Homo sapiens: one gene and its partners. The protein of the gene in region 1 purifies or fractionates together with the protein of each later gene. This does not show direct contact. Each region holds a gene or a part of one and is shown in the gene's direction. Other genes may lie near its edges.

Region 1 (3,500 bases):
TGTATTTTTTAGTAGAGATGGGGTTTCACCATGTTGGCCAGGCTGGTCTTGAACTCCTGACCTCGTGATCCACCTGCCTTGGCCTCCCAAAGTGCTGGGATTACAGGCGTGAGCCACTGCACCAGCCTTGCATACTTTTACTCAAAGTTATCTCCATGAGATTCACCCATGAATACTGCCTATATCAGTACAGTCTTCCCTCAGTGTTCTTGGGATTGGTTCCAGGACCCCACTCAGATACCAAACTCCATGGATGCTCAAGTCCTTTGAAGTTGGCCCTCCATATCCTCGGGTTCTGAGTCCAGGGTTCATTGAATCTGTGGACACAGTATTCACAGTTAGGGAGGGTGGACTGTAGTTAGTACTTTCTTATGCTGGTTTGTATTTCATTGTGATATACCCCATTTATCCATTCTACTATTGACGGACATTTGTGGTGTTTCCAGGTTTTAGCTTTATGAATGAAGTGTTGTGAACATTCTTGTATATGTGATTTGTGGCTGTAAACACTCATCTATCCTCTATAAACCTAGGAATGGCATTGTTGGGTCACTAGGGTACACATGTATTTAGCTTTAGTAGGTACTACTAAACCTTTTCCCAAAAGGGATGTACTGACACACACTCCCACTCCCCACCAGCAGTGTAAGAGTTCCACCTTTCCCTACGTCCCTGCCAGTGCTTGCTGTTGTCTCTCTTTAATCTTAACCCTTTTGGTGTCTCATAGTGGTTTAATTTGCATTTCTCTGATGGCCAGTAACGTTGAGCACCTCTTCATGTGTTTATTGGCCTTTTTTTTTTTTTTTTGAGACGGAGTCTTGCCTGTCGCCCAGGCTGGAGTGCAATGGCGTGATCTCGGCTCATTGCAACCTCCACCTCCTGGGTTTGAGTAATTCTCCTGCTTCAGCCTCCCGGGTAGCTGGGATTATAGGCACGCATCATCACACCCAGTTAATTTTTGTATTTTTAGTAGAGACAGGGTTTCACCATGTTGGCCAGGCTAGTCACAAACTCCTGACCTCAGGAGATCCACCTGTCTCGGCCTCCCAAAGTGCTGGGATTACAGGTGTGAGCCACCATGCCCGGGCCATTTTTTTTTTTAAACTTTAAGTTCTGGGATGCATGTGCAGAACGTGCAGGTTCGTTACATAGGTACACCTGTGCCGTGGTGGTTTTCTGTACCCATCAACCCGTCATCTAGGTTTTAAGCCCCTCATGCATTAGGTATTTGTCCTAATGCTCTCCCTCCCCTTGGCCCCCACCCCCCGACAGGCCCTGGTATGTGATGTTCCCCTCCCTGTGTCCAATTATTGACCATTTTTACATCCTCTTTTATGAACTATATGTTCAAATCTTTTGTCCTTTTTTTTTTTTTTTTTTTTTTTTTGAGACAGAGTTTCACTCTTTGTTGCCCAGGCTGGAGTGCAATGGCGTGATCTCGGCTAACCACAACCTCTGCCTCCCGGGTTAAAGTGATTCTCCTGCCTCATCCTCCCAAGTAGCTGGGATTACAGGCATGCGCCACTACGCCCGGCTAATTTTGTATTTTTAGTGGAGACCGGGTTTCTCCATGTTGGTCAGGCTGGTCTCGAACTCCTGACCTCAGGTGATCCACCCGCCTCGGCCTCCCATAGCGCTGGGATTACAGGCGTGAGCCACCGCACCTGGCCTCTTTTGTCCATTTTTTTAAAAACAAGTTTTGCCTGGGCGCGGTATCTCACGCCTGTAATCCCAGCACTTTGGGAGGCCGAGGCGGGTGGATCATGAGGTCAGGAGATCGAGACCATCCTGGCTAACACGGTGAAACCCCATCTCTACTAAATATACAAAAACTTAGCCGGGTGTGGTGGCGGGTGCCTGTAGTTCCAGCTACTCGCTGAGGCAGGAGAATGGTGTGAAGCCGGGAGGCGGAGCTTACAGTGAGCCGAGATCGCGTGACTGCACTCCAGACTGGGAGAGAAAGCAAGACTCTGTCTCAAAAACAAACAAACAAACAAAAAAAACTAGTTTTCTGTCTTTTTCTTTTTTTGAGACAAAGTCTCACTCTGTCATCCAGGCTTACGTGCAGTGGCCTGATCACTGCCCACTGCAGCCTCAATCTCCTAGGCTCAAGCAATCCTCCTGCCTCAGCCTCCCAAGTAGCTGGGACGACAGGTGCACACCACCAAGCCCAGCTAATTTTAAAACATCTTGTAGAGACGTGGTCCTGCTATGTTACCCAGCTGTTCTCTAACTCTTGGGCTCAGGCGATCCTGTCACCTTGGCCTCCCAAAGTATTGGGATTACAAGCATGAGCCACTGCGCCTGGCCTTTTTCTTATTGATTTGTAAGAATTCTTTGTATATTCTGGTTAGAAATCATTTATCAAATATAAATGACTTGATTTTCTGAGCTTGCTGTTTCATTTTCTGAGTGGTATACTTTGATGAACACAAGTTCCTAATTTTATTTTTATTTATTTATTTATTTATTTGAGACAGAGTCTCACTCTGTTGCCTAGGCTGGAGTGCAGTGGTGTGATCTTGGCTCACTGCAAGCTCTGCTCCCCAGGTTCAAGCTATTCTCCCACCTCAGCCTCCTGAGTAGCTGGGATTACAGATGCGTGTCACCACACCCACCTAATTTTTTATTTTTAGTAGAGATGGGATTTCACCATGTTGGTCAGGCTGGTCTCGAACTCCTGACCTCCGATGATCCACCCGCCTTGGCCTCCCAAAGTGCTGGGATTACAGGCGTGAGCTCCTGTGCCCTGGCCTATTTTATTTTTTATTTTTTGGAGACAGAGTCTCGCTCTGTCACCCAGGCTGGAGTTCAGTGGCATGATCTTGGCTCCCTGGAACCTCCACCTCCTAGGTTCCAGCAATTCTCCTGCCTCAGCCTCCCAAGTAGCTGAGACTACAGGGGTATGCCACCACACCCAGCTAATTTTTGTGTTTTTAGTACAGACAGTTTCAACATGTTGAACAGCCTGGTCTTGAACTCCTGACCTCAGATGATCTGGCTGCCTTGGCCTCCCAAAGTGCTGGGATTACAGGCATGAGCCACCGTGCCCAGCCATGTTCTTAATTTTAATGAATCCAATTTATCAATATTTCTTTCCTTTCTCTTTTTTTTTTTTTTTTTTTTTTTTTTTTTTTGAGACAGGGTCTGTCTCTGTTGCCTAGGCTGGAGTGCACTGGCACCATCTCGGCTGACTGCAACCTCGACCTTCTGGGCTCAAGCCGCCCTGCCACCTCAGCCTCTCAAGTAGCTGGGACTACAAGTCTGCCATCACTATGCCCAGCTAATTTTTGTGTTTTTAGTATAGAGAAAGGGTTTCTCCATGTTGCCCAGGCTGGTCTTGAACTCCTGAGCTCAAATGATCCACCTGCCTCGGCATCCCAAAGTGCTGGGATTAACAGGCCTGAGCTCCCATGCCTGGCCTTTTCTTTCCTATGGTTAGTATTTTTGTGACCTATTTAAGAAATCTTTGCCTGCCCAAGATGTTCATGTTCTTCTGG
Region 2 (3,983 bases), on another chromosome or scaffold:
TAAGAAAGCTGGTTGGTCTGAGGTTCAAACCATATGTCTATGAGCTCCCAAAATCAATGCTCCTTTGTATGTCTCAAAGCACTGTACACAGCTGGTGCTTAATAGTTAAAATCTTCTATCACCCCTCCCCATTTGACTTGATAACTTAGGAAGGTAAAAGGCATGAGGCGGCTTTCACAGCTGTGGGACTTAGCTCTTGTTACCTTGGGCAGTTGTACAGATTCCTACAACCTGTATTTCAGGGTCGAAGTGAAAATATTTGTCTATCACTGAGTGTTTTGTATATTTATGGCTCTCGATCAAGAGATTATGTGTCAATGATAATAATCAGCTCTTGGCTACATTTCAATTTTTTTTCTTTTATTTTACTTTTAAGTTCTGGGATACATGTGCAGAACATGCAGGTTTGTTACATAGGTATACATGTGCCATGGTGGTTTGCTGCACCTATCAACCTGTCAGCTAAGTTTTATGCCCCGCATACATTAGGTATTTGTTCTAATGCTCGTGTTTTCTTTTTTTCTGAGGCAGTCTCGCTCACTGTAACCTCCACCTCTTGGGCTCAAGCCATCCTTCCGCCTCAGCCTCCATGGTAGCTGGGACTACAGTCGCGCGCCACCACGCCCGGCTAATTTTTTAAAAAAAATTATGTAGAGATGGGTCTTGCTATGTTGCCCACTCCAGTGGGCATCCCAAAATGTTACTGGCATCCCAAAATGTTAGGATTGCAGATATGAGCCACTGCGCCTGGCCTTTTTTAAAAAAAGTTTTATCCAGTGACAGGCTGGGCTATACACTTAATGTCTAAAGGTTTTTGCCTTTCAGTTCATATCAACGCGAGTAGAGTTAGCTAGCTATGTTTGTAAACAATATTCCGATATGCTTCGTTAAAGTAAGCCGATATTAAACATTTATATAAATCCATCCTCACAGGGTCAATCTGGAGATAAACTCACCGCTGCAGGGGGCGGGGAAGGAGGTGGGAACACGCTCATTGACAACTTCATTTCCATGAGAATGGTTGCTGTGGTGATTGCTGCGTCTTCCCATTGGTCATTGCCGAGCGTATTGCGGTTCTCCGGGAGGGTTATATTGGTTCCCATTCCACAGCGGCCGCAACGTGTCGAGAGCCGTAAGTAAAGTGTCGCAAAGCAGAAGGAAGGCGGGAGTCCCGACTGCAAACATTGAGGAAAGCCAGGCAGTAGAGGCCGCTATGGCGAACGTTCCGTGGGCAGAGGTCTGCGAGAAATTCCAGGCGGCGCTCGCTCTGTCGCGGGTGGAACTGCATAAAAATCCGGAGAAGGAACCATACAAGTCCAAATACAGCGCCCGGGCGCTACTGGAAGAGGTCAAGGCGCTGCTCGGCCCTGCGCCTGAGGACGAGGATGAGCGGCCTGAGGCCGAGGACGGCCCGGGTGCCGGTGACCACGCCCTGGGGCTGCCGGCTGAGGTGGTGGAGCCCGAGGGGCCCGTCGCCCAGCGAGCGGTGAGGCTGGCAGTCATCGAGTTCCACCTCGGGGTGAACCACATCGACACGGAGGAGCTGTCGGCGGGGGAGGAGCACCTGGTGAAATGCCTGCGGCTGCTGCGCAGGTACCGGCTCTCGCACGACTGCATCTCTCTCTGCATCCAGGCGCAGGTGAGAGCGAGCCCGGCCAGGCCGGCCCCTGTTGGCAAATGGCGAGGGATGGGGAGGAGCCCCTGCCAAGGCCAAGGGCAGACGTTGTAAGGCGCAATTCGTCCCCACGTTTTTGTAGCTCTGGACTGAGTCCCAAAGAGCGTCTGTGGTCTTCAAAAAAGCCAGTCTTATGGACTTATTGCCTTGTAACTAGATCTCCCACAGTCGGCCGTCCCCAGACTCCGTGTCCACCCTCGTCGCCCACACCAATATCGCTTGCTGCTGCTTCACTTAGACGTGGCGATGCATTGGTGTCCGAGACCCTCCTACATCGTCATGCGCTTTCCTCTCCACCAGTCCAACTCCTGTTCATTCTGTTAAGAAAATCCAAAGTAATTTAAATCTTAACGTCTCAAGGAAATGACAATGACCGGAGTACATTCTTTTTTGGTTTTGTCTTGTTTTTGTTTTTTTCTTAGAGATGGGGTCTCACTGTGTCGCCCAGGTTCGAGTTAAGTGGCACCATCATAGCTCATTGCAGCTTCCACCTCTTGGGCTCAAGCAGTCCTCCTGCCTCAGCCTTCATAGTAGCTGGAACCACAGGCGCATGCCACCATTCTTGGTAATTTTTTTAATTTTCTGTAGAGATGGGGGTCTCACTATATTGCCCAGGCTGGTCTTGAACTCCTGGACTCAAGTGATCCTTCTGGCTCACCTTCTCAAAGTGCTGGGATTACAGGCCTGAGCCGCTGTGCCTGGCTCGGAATACATTCTTAATTCAAAATAAAATGTCCAAAATCTGCAGCTTCCTTTCTTACCAAATTCATTTGTTTGCATCTTAGGGAATTCTTCCCCATTCTTGAAAACCTATCTCAAGAATCACTTCCTTTAGTATTAATAACTTTCTTGGGACCATTTTGGGCCAAACTGATCTCTCCCTCCTACCTTTGAATTCTTATAATACTTTTTGTTTCCCATTTATATGGTACTTGGTTTCTTAAATAAATCTGGGCAGGGCACAGTGGCTCCCATCTGTAATCCCAGCATTTTGGGAGGCCGAAGTGGGAGGATGGCGTGAGGTCAGTAGTTCAAGACCAGCCTGGGCAACAAAGTGAGACTCTGTCTCTTAAACAAAACAAAACAAAACAAAAAACCCACAAAACTAGCCAGGCATGGTGGTACACGCCTGTAGTCTTAGCTACTGGGGAGGCTAGGTTGAGCTGGGAGGATCACTTGAGCCCCTGGAGGAGCCATGATCATGCCACTGCAACTGCAGTCTGGGTGACAGAGCAAGACCTTTTCTCAACAACAACAAAATCCACATCAATATTCTAAAGTAATATTGGTCAACACCTGTGAAAAGAAGGGGTGAAAAAAAGAAAAATACTTTAAAAAGTTAAAATAATATTGGGACAGGTGAACATGGATGTTTATCACAGCAGTGTTGATTATTAAAGAAGGAAAATCGCAGGGCTGAGGCAGGAGGATCGCTTGAGCCCAGGAGGTCAAGGCTGCAGTGAGCCAAGATTGTATCACTGCACTCCAGCCTGTGCAACAGAGTGAGACCCTGTCTCAAAAAGCAAAGAAAAGGAAAACAATATAAATGTCAGTAGGAATATGATTAAATTCCGTTACATCCAAACAGAAGAACAGTACACAATTATTAAAAATAATAATTTATATTAACAAAAATTGGCAATATGAAGAGGGAGGAAGAAGACTATAAGCCATATTTAGAATTATGTAGAAAAGGCCGGATGTGGTGGCTCACACTTGTAATCCTAGCACTTTGGGAGGCTGGGATGAGATGATCACTCGAGCTTAGGAGTTCAAGACCAACCTGGGCACATAGTGACACCTCATCGCTACTAAAAATAAGAAAAAAAAATTATTCCAGGCATGGCTGCTTTGCTAGGCAGTATGTTCTTTGGGCAGCCATCGGGGCCCCAACCACCACCGGGGCTCTGGGGCCAGGCTTCCTTTACTTACCAGCAGCTCCAGGGCCTCTGAGACCTTCTAACAGTACTTTGGTGGATGACATGGAGTCATCTTTCCAGACTTGCTTTGCCTCTCCGTTAAGTCAGGACTATGTCAATGGCAGCAATCAGGAAGAAATTGGAACTGGTGTTGATCGGTGTATACACAAGTTTCTGGATATTGCAAGACAGAATATTTCTTTCCTACAAAAAAGATTGCAATTATCTGTCCAGAAACCAGAGCAAGTTATCAATGAGGATGTCGATGTCTCCGAACTAAGAAATGAATAACATTGGAGACATGCACTGGTCCAGAAGCACTTGACAAAGCTAAGGCATTGGCAGCAAGTGCTGGAGGTCATCACGTGCAGTACAAAAAGCTAGCTGAC
Region 3 (3,500 bases), on another chromosome or scaffold:
ATATGTCATGAAGCATAAGACCAAAACAAGCAGCAATTTCTTACCTTCTTCAAAGGAATATTCTTTACTCTCTTCTAGTTTATTCTTTTATTTATTGTTAGAAAAAACTGTCAGATACCTAGTTCATGAATGTGCAGTCTTTTTAGTTATGAGCATCTGAAGCTATAAATTTTCCTTAACTTTCATTGTATATGAGTTTTATATTTCCTTCTAAGTATTTTAAAATATCCATTATGATTTCTTCTTTGACTCAGGAATTATTTAGAAATGTATTTTTTAAATCTCCATATTGAGGTAACAACCATATTTCAGTGAGGGGAAAGATAAGCCTTCCCCCTCGCCACACACGTTTTAACACCTTATGATGATATATATATATATATATAACAGTGTCTTAGAGGCTGCAAAATATGTTTCTCTTTTGTCATTGATTTCCAACTTAATTGCATGTGGTTTTGTATACTCTGATTCTCTTTTCTTTTTCTTTTCTTTTTCTTTTTCTTTTTTTTTTTTTGAGCTGGAGTTTCACTCTTGTCGCCCAGGCTGGAGTGCAATGGCGCAATCTTGGCACACCTGTGCCTCCCGGGTTCAAGCGATTCTCATGCCTCAGCCTCCCAAGTAGCTGGGATTACAGGCATGCACCACCTTGCCTGGCTAATTTTGTATTTTTTGTAGAGACAGGGTTTCACCATGTTGGCCAGGCTGGTGTCAAACACCTGACCTCAGGTGATCCGTCCGTCTTGGCCTCCCAACGTGCTGGGATTACAGGCGTCAGCCACCGCACCCGGGCCTCCCACATAAGTCTTAAATGGAACCTGCTGTGTACTCCCTGCAAGAAAATACCAACTAGTACATACACACAGTAATGTCCCCAGTCTTAGAGGTGACTTCAGTATGGTCTGTTGAACACCACAAACTAGACATTATTTTTTGATACAGTATTTGTTTAGATTTATATTTGTATTTGCCAGTTTATTTGTTCACCACCCCTTCCTTCTGGGGTCCCTTCCTTCTGGGATCATTTCTTTCTTCATTGAAATACATTCCTTATACATTGTTTTAGTGAAAATCTTGTGGGTGACTCTCAGAATCTCTAGCATGTCACTAAAGATGTTTTCTTCAATCTGTAATTACTAAATGTTTGTCATTTATGAACATGTCTAAATATTCTTGAAATCCATCTGTGGTTCTAACCAATTTGAGTGATAAAGACGGCCAAGAATCTGAAGTTGAAGTGATGGTTGATACAGTGCTTTATTTCCTGGATTTGTCAGGAGTTTAAATTGTCTTTATGACTGATGATGCAATTGGAAGGAGATTAAGAATCTGAAATGAATACTTTTCATTCATTTTTATCATCCCAGCCTCTTGAGACTGCCTAAGACCCATATAAATAGTTATTGGAGCTCCTGATTCCCTAAGCTTTGATCCACAAGATTGGACATGGCTCAAGTCACCATGTGTTTTGTTACAGCTCAGAGAGTGGCAACAGTGTGAAAAGACTGAAACCGGACCCTGAGCCAGATGACAAGAATCAAGGTGGGTGGCAGCCTTCATTACTTCCTTGTACTCAGAATACACATGAACCACAGTAAAGGGCTGTAATGCATTGCTTCTGCAAATGAATGCATTTCTGTCTTCAAGCAAGCCTACCTATGCTTAATTTACCCAACTTTTTTATGCCAGGCAGGATTTTATTACCAGGCCAGAGTTTATACCAGGCAGGATTTTATACCTGCAAAAGTTATTATATTAGAAACCAGTGAAACTGATCAATGAAAATAGTACTCTCCCAGGAGTGCTTACCAGGCCCTGGTCATACCACCTCTGCTCACAAAAGGTGTTTTTCTGTTTCCCCCAAATGTCAGGTTTCTTGATTTCACCTGGTTTGCTACCAGTGGGAGGTAAATACCTGGCTCCTGCTCATTGTTGTACTGGATTGAGCCTAGAAGCTTAATACAATCTCAAGGAGTATACTTCTTTGGTTTTTACTTTTATGTGATGAAATCTGCCTCTGTATTAAGAGGCAAGAACTTGTAAGTGAAGGTGAATGTTACTGGGGCTGGATTAGGGATGAGAAATTCGAGTGTGTTTTCAGTTTTATTCTAACTCCATGTGGGATTGAGACTCTGAACTAAATTCCATCGATCAACAGGGCTTACATTAATTTCTCTCAAAAAAAGATGATGCTTTTTAATATGCATCTACTAAGCACCAGTGGTGGTGGTCTGTTGCTGTTACCCTTTTGGTCTAGAACCTACTTTTAAAAAGAAGAGTCTGGGGGAAAAAAAAAGGAGCCTGCCTTTTACCCGTATCTCTTCCATCTAGTTCTCCTTAGAGGGAAACAGAATTATACTTTTTTTTTTCTTTTTTTTGAGATGGAGTCTCACTCTGTCACCCAGGCTGGAGTGCAGTGGCTCAATCTCAGCTCACTGCAACCTCCGCCTCCTGGGCTCAAGTAATTCTCCTGCCTCACCCTCCCGAGTATTTGGGATTACAGGCGTGCGCCACCACACCTGGCTAATTTTTGTATTTTTAGTAGAGACAGGATTTCACCATGTTGGCCAGGCTGGTCTTGCACTCCTGACCTCAAGTGATCTGCCTGCCTCGGCCTCCCAAAGTGCTGGGATTACAGGAGTGAGCCACCAAGCCCAGCCACATTTCTTATGTAGCCATCAAGAGCTATTCTATGCATGTGCAAGCAATTGTAAATATGTATCTTTTAAATGCTTTATTATGGATAATTTAAGCAATATTCAGAAGTTGGAATAAGTATAATAAACCCCCATTACCAAGCTTCACTGATTTTTTTTTTTTCTTTGTAAGGTATCTCCTACAGGAAAGACCGTCAACAATTTTTTTTTTTTTTTTTTTTGAGACAGGGTCTTGCTCTATCACCCAAGATAGAGTGTAGTGGGGTTATCTTGGCTCATTGCAGCCTCTGCCTTCCTGGTTTAAGCAATTTTCATGCCTCAACCACCCAGGTAGCTAGGACTACAGGCATGTGCCACCACGCCCAGCTAATTTTTGTATTTTTAGTAGAGACGGGATTTCGCCATGTTGGCCAGGCTGGTCTCGAACTCCTAGCCTCAAGTGATCCACCTGCCTCGGCCTCCCAAAGTGCTGGGATTACAGGTGTGAGCCACCACACCCAGTCAGCAGTTTTTAACACATAGCCAATTTTATTTCATTTATATCTCTCAACTGTAATATTTTGTGACAATTCCAGACATTATATCATTTCATTCATAATTCTTAATATATGTCTCTAGCAAATACAAGTTCTTATTTTGTTTCTTTGTTTTAACAATTACAGTACCATTATATTAATAATCACAGGCCAGGCGCAGTGGCTCATGCCTATAATCCCAACACTTTGGGAGGCTGAGGCAGGCAGATCACCTGAGGTTGGGAGTTTGTGACCAGCCTGACCAACATGGAGAAACCCTGTCTCTACTAAAAATACAAAATTAGTCGGGCTGCTGGCTATGCCTGTAATC
Region 4 (3,500 bases), on another chromosome or scaffold:
ACTGCTGATTTTCTTTCCCTCGTTTTTGTAGGAGATGACCAGGATAGTGAAAAGTCAAAACCAGCAGGCTCAGATGGTGAGCGGCGGGGGGTAAAGAGACAGCGGGATGAGAAGGATGAACATGGCCGAGCTTACTATGAATTCCGAGAGGAGGCTTACCACAGCCGGTGAGGGAAACAGTCCCTTTCGTTGAAGGGAGTGTCTGCTCTGATTTTGGTATACCTGGTATTGACTGGAGAGACTGGAAGGAGGGTGGATTCAAAATGGAATAGGTTTTTATAGGCATGAGTTTTAGATTGCATCTACCATGGAAACTCCTATTGCCCTTTCTCATTTATTGGAAAAAGCTGTCTGCTGGGATTTGATATTCACTGACAGTTTAAAATGGACATAATGTCATACACACACACCCCTCAAAGAAGAGGGCTTTGTTTACATTGTGTTTCTTTTCTATCTTACATATATAGCTCAAAGTCTCCACTGCCTCCTGAAGAAGAGGCAAAAGATGAGGAGGAGGATCAAACTCTTGTGAACCTGGACACGTGTATGTATAAGGCAGACAGACTGTGGTTTTTAACTAATCTCCTAAAAGTGATTTTGGAGATTAAAACTTCATAGCCTATAAATTCTATGAGACTTTGTATCCACTACAACAACTGGTATACTTATGCTCTGTTGGCGGCTTACAAGTATTGGACATTGGAGTAAACTGATTGCTTCTTTCTTTACAGATACCTCGGATCTGCATTTTCAAGTGAGCAAAGACCGCTATGGAGGGCAGCCACTTTTCTCAGAGAAGTTCCCCACCCTTTGGTCTGGGGCAAGGAGTACTTACGGAGTGACAAAGGGAAAAGTCTGCTTTGAGGCAAAGGTAGCTCATTAAGACCATTCATTCATTCATTCATTTATTACTGGATGCTTACGGTTCTTAGAGGGGGAAAAGAAGATTATTATCTCTTTTTTTTTGAGATGGAGTTTCGCTCTTGTTACCCAGGCTGGAGTCCAGTGGCACCATCTCGGCTCACCACAGCCTCTGCCTCCTGGGTTGAAGCGATTCTCCTGCCTCAGCCTCCCGAGGAGCTGGGATTACAGGCATGCGCCACCACACCTGGCTAATTTTGTATTCTTAGTAGAGATGGGGTTTCTCCATGTTGGTCGGGCTGGTCTTGAACTCCCGACCTCAGGTGATCCGCCCGTCTTGGCCTCCCAAAGTGCTGGGATTACAGGCATGAGCTACCGCACCTGGCTGGGGAAGAAATATTTTTTTAAAAAGACCGTTCATTTATTCATTAAGCTACTACCTATGTATACTGGACTTCTGTCCAATCAGGCTTTTATTAGTGCAGGTAGGTAAAAGCACTGTGCTTTAACAAGAACCTTAGTTTCAGTAACCAAGAAATTGATCCCTGTGGCTTTAAGTTCAGTGATTGTTATTCTGATGTTGAGTTGAGGTAAATGTCGTTTTCAGTTTGTATAAAAATCTTGTCCTTCGAACTCAGAGTTTGCTACTCAGTTGGTCACAATATCTAATAGTTCCCTTTCTGACTTGGCCAGGTAACCCAGAATCTCCCAATGAAAGAAGGCTGCACAGAGGTCTCTCTCCTTCGAGTTGGGTGGTCTGTTGATTTTTCCCGTCCACAGCTTGGTAAAGTTATTTCTTTAAGTTCCTCATTAGTGTTTACTACCATATTGCTTACTCTATGGGAAGTCCGGTTGTAGGTAACTAATTTGTTGACTGTTCTAGGTGAAGATGAATTCTCTTACGGTTTCGATGGACGAGGACTCAAGGCAGAAAATGGACAATTTGAGGAATTTGGCCAGACTTTTGGGGAGAATGATGTTATTGGCTGCTTTGCTGTAAGTGCTCCTGAAAGTTGTGGGTTATAACAAGGAGCGGATAGAGGGCACTGGGAATTCACTTGTGCTTCCCATCAACTGCTGGCTTTTATGCATGTGATGTGTGTGGCTCGCTTAGTTACTTTGTGCAGCAGTCTGTGTGAAAAAAGAATAAATTGTAAAGTTTAATCAACCCAAAGCCTCGTCAGCCAATAAGTGCTCTTGTCCCTTGTCATTGTAGAATTTTGAGACTGAAGAAGTAGAACTTTCCTTCTCCAAGAATGGAGAAGACCTAGGTGTGGCATTCTGGATCAGCAAGGATTCCCTGGCAGACCGGGCCCTTCTACCCCATGTCCTCTGCAAAAATTGTGTTGTAGAATTAAACTTCGGTCAGAAGGAGGAGCCCTTCTTCCCACCACCAGAAGAGTTTGTGTTCATTCATGCTGTGCCTGTTGAGGAGCGTGTACGCACTGCAGTCCCTCCCAAGACCATAGAGGAATGTGAGGTATGCCAAACAGTATACGAACACTGAGGTTGTATGCTTTGCAGAGGTGGGTGCGTATGCTCTCCAGGGTCTCAGAGCGTTACCAAACAGGAATGGGAGGATGTTCTTAAATTGGTTTTGATAAACATGACCCTCATTTATTTTTCATTATATTTCTGGTTCTGTTTTTTGCAGGTGATTCTGATGGTGGGACTACCCGGATCTGGAAAGACCCAGTGGGCACTGAAATATGCAAAAGAAAACCCTGAGAAAAGATACAATGTCCTGGGAGCTGAGACTGTGCTCAATCAAATGAGGGTAAGTTGCTGTTGGGGATTTGTCGGATACAGTATTTGGAGACTCTTATAACCTATCTTTAATGGAGAATTAGTCTCAAGTGTCTGAGAACAAGGGTCCCAGAAATAGAGAAATGAGATTTTTCTCTATGCGTTTTAGGTGGATTGATTTTTTTTTTCTTTGCTGTGTTGTCAAATTTCTGAAAGCAGATGAGATCTGAAATACATCCAGGTTAAGACTAGATAGAAATGACTACTGCAGGAAATGGACAACATTCACAGCACTGAAGAATGGGAATAGAGTGATATCATAGATTCAGTATTTGAAGAGGTGACATTTACCAATAACTCTTGGGCTTTAACTTGCAATATAACTTGTGTTTTGTTTTTTTTTTTCACTTCCTCTCAAACTAATCAGATGAAGGGTCTCGAGGAGCCAGAGATGGACCCCAAAAGCCGAGACCTTTTAGTTCAGCAAGCCTCCCAGTGCCTTAGTAAGCTGGTCCAGATTGCTTCCCGGACAAAGAGGAACTTTATTCTTGATCAGGTATTAATCTGATAAAATTGCCTAGAGTCAAGGTGGGATGTGTATATAAAGAGAGACTGAATTAAGGAGCAGAGTCAGCTTACCTAATTATGACCATCTGGTTGTGTGTTATGGTTGCAATGTTTTTTGAACTCAGAGGTACCCCTAATTAGTGTTTTTACTTGAAAATATATGGACCCAGGCTATAAAACATGTAATAAAGACAATGGAAAGAGTTGGAACTCATTTGAATTCCTGGCTCCACCACATTCTGGTTTGTGATCTTGGATAAGTCCCTTATCCTTTCTGAACCTCAGTTTCCCTGATGAGCAAAACAGGATAATACCTGTCATGTAGT

What was found.
Region 2: the proteins of ANKRD54 (region 1) and KIFBP purify together in Homo sapiens (affinity purification with mass spectrometry; one large-scale study listed by BioGRID and IntAct). This does not show direct contact.
Region 3: the proteins of ANKRD54 (region 1) and PSME3IP1 purify together in Homo sapiens (affinity purification with mass spectrometry; one large-scale study listed by BioGRID and IntAct). This does not show direct contact.
Region 4: the proteins of ANKRD54 (region 1) and HNRNPUL2 purify together in Homo sapiens (affinity purification with mass spectrometry; one large-scale study listed by BioGRID and IntAct). This does not show direct contact.

What each region holds. Positions count from the first base shown.
Region 1 is NC_000022.11:37,834,335-37,837,834, reverse strand, and holds part of ANKRD54 (ankyrin repeat domain-containing protein 54), read left to right. Parts: intron 1-3,500. UniProt on the Homo sapiens protein: Plays an important role in regulating intracellular signaling events associated with erythroid terminal differentiation.
Region 2 is NC_000010.11:68,987,620-68,991,602, forward strand, and holds the start of KIFBP (KIF-binding protein), read left to right. Parts: upstream 1-1,183; 5' UTR 1,184-1,213; coding exon 1,214-1,639; intron 1,640-3,508; exon of another isoform or gene 3,509-3,983. UniProt on the Homo sapiens protein: Activator of KIF1B plus-end-directed microtubule motor activity. Required for organization of axonal microtubules, and axonal outgrowth and maintenance during peripheral and central nervous system development.
Region 3 is NC_000016.10:57,162,040-57,165,539, reverse strand, and holds part of PSME3IP1 (PSME3-interacting protein), read left to right. Parts: intron 1-1,474; coding exon 1,475-1,539; intron 1,540-3,500. UniProt on the Homo sapiens protein: Promotes the association of the proteasome activator complex subunit PSME3 with the 20S proteasome and regulates its activity.
Region 4 is NC_000011.10:62,720,958-62,724,457, reverse strand, and holds part of HNRNPUL2 (heterogeneous nuclear ribonucleoprotein U-like protein 2), read left to right. Parts: intron 1-31; coding exon 32-167; intron 168-467; coding exon 468-544; intron 545-731; coding exon 732-871; intron 872-1,554; coding exon 1,555-1,645; intron 1,646-1,744; coding exon 1,745-1,857; intron 1,858-2,077; coding exon 2,078-2,341; intron 2,342-2,515; coding exon 2,516-2,638; intron 2,639-3,034; coding exon 3,035-3,163; intron 3,164-3,500.